Linked DNA regions of Homo sapiens: region 2 is linked to region 1. Evidence: fine-mapped expression QTL. Tissue or cell type: whole blood. Region 1 holds a variant in brackets; the other region holds the start of a gene. All regions are shown on one strand. Distances are between the middles of the regions.

Region 1 (2,680 bases):
TCCCGGGAGGCGGAGGCAGCAGCAGAATCGTAGAACAGCGAAATCCTGCCCCGATCCCGAGGCTGAACCCACGAGGGCCCTGCTCAGGGGAGGCCCGTCACCAGCCAGTGTTGGTTGTGTCTGGCCCAGACCCCACCCCGGAGGAGACTCCCACGGACACAGCTCCCTTGACACAGCAGAGGGCATCCCAGGACTCGGCCAGGGCAGGGTCTGTGGGGTACCGGGCTTCAGCGTGGCTACATCGCGGCCATTGGGGAGGACAGCATCTGGGACACATCCCACGCCGTTCTGGCCCCGTTGGCCTCTGCATCCCCTGCCCCTCTAGCTTCTGGCCCGTCCAGCTCCTGGGGCTTTGAGACGGGCTCAGCCCGGGCAGCTCCAGGAGCAGGGTTGAGGGAGAGGCACACACAGGCAGACAGCGATGGGGCACGTGGGGAGGGGCTGCGGTGGGAGGAGAGAGGGCGGGGCTGGGAAGGGCCCGGGCAGCGATGGGGCTGGGCGCTGGGCAGAGCAGCAGGTCATGGGAAGGAGCCTGCTCCCCCCGGGACAGCAGCCTGGGGTCGACTTGTCACAGCAGAGGGAGAACAGAGACCAGGTTCCCAGGGGAGTGGAAGGGTTCGGGGCAGCGACCCTGAGGCAGAAGGTCGTGTCCAAGTGTGAACGCTGGGATTTTATGGGATGGTTGCATGTGTCCTTATGGACAAAGGTTTCTCTGGGAAACTGGACTTGGGTCAAGTCCAGTCCTCTGCGTCCTACAGAAATTCTGCCTTCCAGAACCTTCTAGATTCTTAAGTGACAGCTTCTCATCTGTCCCCACCTGTTGGGGTCTAATGGAAGGGGTGGATCCCCACCTAGGCATGTGGCTACGTCCAGCTGGGGCAGGTGGCCTGACTGTAGGACAGCCAGTCTCTCTTAGGCATTGGGCCAGGTGTCCACTCCACTGGCAACGTGAGCTGAGCACACATCATGTCCCTGTATGTCAGCATCTGTGTGCATCTGTGGGGCCTCCGGCCTGCCTATCACCCTCTTCTCCACCGCAGGACGACCATCTGGACCCACCGCGTCCGCTTCCTGGAAGAGCAGGCCCTGCCCCGCTGGGCGGCCTTCACCATCTGGAACGCTGGCAAGCAGGGGCGCCGGCTGTACCGCAGCTTGACTGCCGGCAGCCAGCGCAAGGTGAGCATCCTGCCACCCTCCAACACTGCCTGCCCTGCCCCCGTACTGTCCCACAGCACAGGCCCTGGCCCCGGCCTGTCCAGAGCTGCCCTTCTGTGCTTGTCCCCAGGTGGTGGCATTCTGTGACGTGGACGAGAACAAGATCAGGAAAGGCTTCTATTGCCACGAGGACTCTCAGGTGTGCAGGGCCGCATGGTGTCACCCTTGGGGTCAACCACCTGCTCCGGGGCTGAGGGACAGCTGCTCCGAGCCTTCCCCCTTGGCAGAGTCCACCTGGGCCGTGCTGGCTCCTCGGGGCCTCCAGGGAGCCCAGCCCCCATTCTTGGGGGGAGAACCCCGCTGTCCCTCGTGGGTCT[A/G]GGCCTTGGGGTAGCCCACCCTGGTCAGTTCTGCAGTCGGGTGTCAGGCGGGGGTGGCGGGAGCCGGGTTCCTGCTCTGAACACCTGCCGCAGTCTGTGACCCTGGCACGTTATCTGCTGCCCAAGCCCTGGCTCCTGTGTGAGCCAACTTGGTGGCTGCGTGCACCCTGAGGGCGTCTCTCCGGGGACAAGCTCCAGGCTCGGGCAGGACTGATGGCCACTGTCACTCTCAGGAAAGACCCAAGCCCCGAATCCCCATCCTGCACTTCCGAGCCGCCCGGCCACCCTTCGTCATCTGCGTGAAGCTGGTGAGTGTGGGGCCCTTGGCCGTGGAAGGGCTTGGGGATCCCGGGCTCTGCCACCTGGACAACCCGCCCTGCTGTGCAATGACTGTGTGGCCTGGGATGAGACCCCAGCCGATGGTGGGCATGGGGACAGGTGCCACAGCCGTCCACAACAGCACCACAGACCAGGCTGTGGGGTGGTGGCCGCTGCCCTGGGGGCAGGAGGCAGCTGGAGAGGGTGGCCTGCATGGGTGTGGGGGGGATGGATTCCGGTCTCTCTTCTGTCTTAAAATACCCATAAAGCCAACATTTGTTAGAAACTTGCAAAGCACGAGGCCCTGCGGTGCCATGTCTGAGGGGCCAAGGCCAGGACCTCCAGCTCCCGTGGACTGAGGTGGCTGCATCGGGGATGTCCTCAGCCCCTGAGTGTGAACGACCCTTGCCTGGGGTGGGCAGGTGATGGGTGCCTCGGGCTCCAAATGCAGCCTTTTTCCCCAAGCGTGGGGAGTCCAGGCTGGCTGCGGGGGGCTGAGGTGAGTAGTTTTTTTTTTTAATTTTACTTTAAGTTCTGGGATACATGTGCTGAACATGAAGATTTGTTACATAGGTTTACATGTGCCATGGTGGTTTGCTGCACCTATCAACCCGCCATGTAGGTTTTAAGCCCCGCATGCATTAGGTGTTTGTCCTAATGCCCTCCCTCCCCTTGCCCCCCACCCTCCAACAGGTCCCAGTGTGTGATGTTTCCCTCCCTGTGTCCATGTGTTCTCACTGTTCAACTCCCACTTATGAGTGAGAACATGCGGTGTTTGGTTTTCTGTTCCTGTGTTAGTTTGCTGAGGATGATGGTTTCCAGCTTCATCC
Region 2 (2,680 bases), 94 kb before region 1:
TGGTGGGGTCAGGGCCTCACTCCTGGGCACCCCTCCTCCTGGGGGACCTCGCGGTGGGGTCAGGGCCTCACTCCCGGGCACCCCTCCTCCTGGGGGACCTCCTGGTGGGGTCAGGGTCTCACTCCTGGGCACCCCTCCTTCTGGGGGACCTCACGGTGGGGTGAGGGCCTCACTCCTGGGCACCCCTCCTCCTGGAGGACCTCCTGGTGGGGTCAGGGCCTCACTCCTGGGCACCCCTCCTCCTGGGGGACCTCGCGGTGGGGTCAGGGCCTCACTCCCGGGTACCCCTCCTCCTAGGGGAGCTAACCCCGGGCACCCCTCCTCCTGGGGGGACATCTCAGTGGGGTCAAGGCCTCAGGCCTGGGCACTTCTCCTGGGGGACCTCGCCCCGGGCACCCTTCCTCCTGGATGACACCCCGGTGGGGTCAGGGCCTCACCCCTCTCCTGGGGCCGTCAAGTGTCCTGCACGCCCTGCTCTCCCTACCGCGTCTGTCTGAAAGGACGCCCTGCAGTCCCCTCGTCCTCCCCGGTCAAGTAGCACAGCCCACAGCCCGGGTGAAATGCAACGACCTTTTACATATCAGCCTTGCTTGAGGCTTTACAGCAACTCCAGGCCGCCTGGCTTGGGTTTGCAGCGCGGCGCCCTCGCACAGCCCCGCCTTCCCCGCGGCGGCGTCTACGGGGGACCAGAGATTGTGACGCGCGCCCTAGGGGAGAGCAGGAGGCTTCCACGGGCCAAGGAGGCGGCTCCGAGAGGTGACCCGGGACCGGGGCGTGGCCCAGGGCGGAAGACTGAGGCGGCGACCTCCCGGCCCCGCCCCGCGCCGAGCAGCCCCGCCCCTTCCACGCCCCTCCGGGAGGCCCACCCCTATGGACGCCGCTCTGCACCAATCGGAGATTGCCTGGCCTCAGACCCGCCTCCTGGTGCCGCCCGCGCAGGCGCCGTAGGCCGAAGCGGCGGGATGAGCGGAGCCGGCGTGGGCGGGGCGTCCGAGGAGAGCCAGGCCATGCAGGCCCACGTGGTAGGTGCCAGCGGGGAGGGTGCCCCGCCGTGCAGGCTGGGTCCTCGCGTCCCCTCACCCCGCCCTCCAGTCCTCTCTCGCTCCGGGGTTCGCAGCCCCGCACCGCCTCTCGGGCTCACCTACGGGGTCTCCGCCCTGAGCAGCCCTTAGGCCCCGCGGGCGAGCGCGGCTGCGCGTGCGGGGGACGCTCGGGATTGGAGCCCGCGGGGCGCGGCCGAGATCTGCAGCTCCGGCTGCGCTTCCTGCCCCCGTCCCGCGAGCGTGGCCTCCTCACCGACCTTCCTCGTTCTGATTTTGAAGCTTCCGGGCTCGGAGCTCAGGCAGTTCCCCGTTCGCCCTCACCTGGTCGTGGGGTGGAGGAACGGCGCACCTGCCTCATCCCCGCCCGCCTGCCCCGCGCTCCTTCCCCGCGCCCGCACACCTGCCTCGCTCCCGCCTCGCTCCTGCGCACCTGCCCCGCCCCCGCGCACCTGCCCCCGCACCTCACACACCTGGTCCGCGCACCTGCGCATCTGCCTCGCTCTTACGCACCTGCCTTGCCCCTGCACGCCTGCCCTGCACACCTGCCCCGCCCCCGCACACCTGCCCCACACCCCACACACGTGCCCCGCGCTCCTGACTCGCCCCCGCGCACCTGCCGCGCGCACCTGCCTCGCTCCCGCACCCCACACACCTGGTCTGCACACCTCCCCGTGCCCCACACCTGCCTGCACACCTGTCCGTGTGCCCCCACACAACCTCGCACCCCACACGTCTGCCGTCACACATTCCCGGCACACTTGCCCATGCCCCACACACACGTCTTGTGCCTGCACACCTGCTTCACACACCTGCTCTGCGTCCTGCATACATGCCCGTGCCCCATACCTGCCCGTGCACCTGCCGTGCACACCTGCCTGCGCATCCCACACACCTACCTGCACACCTCCTCCGTGCCCACACACCTGCCTGTGTGCCCAGCACACTTACCCCAAACACGTGCCCTAAAAACCTGCCCTTAAGCCCCGAACACCTTCCCCGTGCTCCGGCAGAGGCTGGAGCAAAGGCCCTCAGGGTTCAGACCCAGCCAATAGGCCGATGCAGGGAACAACCACAGGGATGTAGGATTAGCAGTCGCCCAAAGGCTCAGCATGTTTTCTGTTTTTTGTTTTTTTGTTTGTTTTTTTTCCAGCCTTTTTTCTTTTTTATTCCAGTCTTACTAAAATTGGTAACAGGTGAATCAAGGTCTATCTTTGATAGAAACATTATATTTTGTAGATCTTGAGAAAAATTATTTCCTTCTTTTCCTCTAAGTAAATCCAAACTAAGGTAAATTTGTAAATAAATTAGGGAACTCGTTTTATTTTTTTTTTAATTTTTATTTTTTGAAATGGAGTTTCACACTCGTTGCCCAGGCTGGAGTACAATGGCGCGAGCTCGGCTCACCGCAACCTCTGCCTCCCGGGTTCAAGCGTTTCTCCTGCCTCAGCCTCCCGAGTAGCTGGGATTACAGGCATGCACCACCACACCAGGGTAATTTTGTATTTTTAGTAGGGACGGGGTTTCTCCATGTTGGTCAGGCTGGTCTTGAACTCCCGACATCAGATGATCTGCCCGCCTCGGCCTCCCAAACTGCTGTGATTACAGGCGTGAGCTACCGCGCCCGGCCAGAACTCGTT

The links. PIP is the estimated chance that this variant, and not a neighbour inherited with it, causes the effect.
Region 2: it holds the start of QTGAL, and the variant in region 1 is fine-mapped to the expression of QTGAL in whole blood (TOPMed, PIP above 0.99).

The regions. Positions count from the first base shown.
Region 1 is chr17:82,955,855-82,958,534 of GRCh38, reverse strand. QTGAL (queuosine-tRNA galactosyltransferase) reads left to right here. Exons shown (of 13, transcript NM_001009905.3): 9 at 1,041-1,176; 10 at 1,286-1,354; 11 at 1,766-1,840. Among named protein-coding and RNA genes, the nearest start is that of QTGAL, 95 kb to the left of the region's middle. The variant A/G (reference allele first, on the strand shown) is at 1,533.
Region 2 is chr17:83,050,079-83,052,758 of GRCh38, reverse strand. It overlaps QTGAL (queuosine-tRNA galactosyltransferase), which reads left to right and starts at 989. Exons shown (of 13, transcript NM_001009905.3): 1 at 989-1,022. The coding sequence starts at 1,008. LOC124904094 reads right to left here and starts at 1,572. Exons shown (of 4, transcript XR_007065967.1): 1 at 1,514-1,572.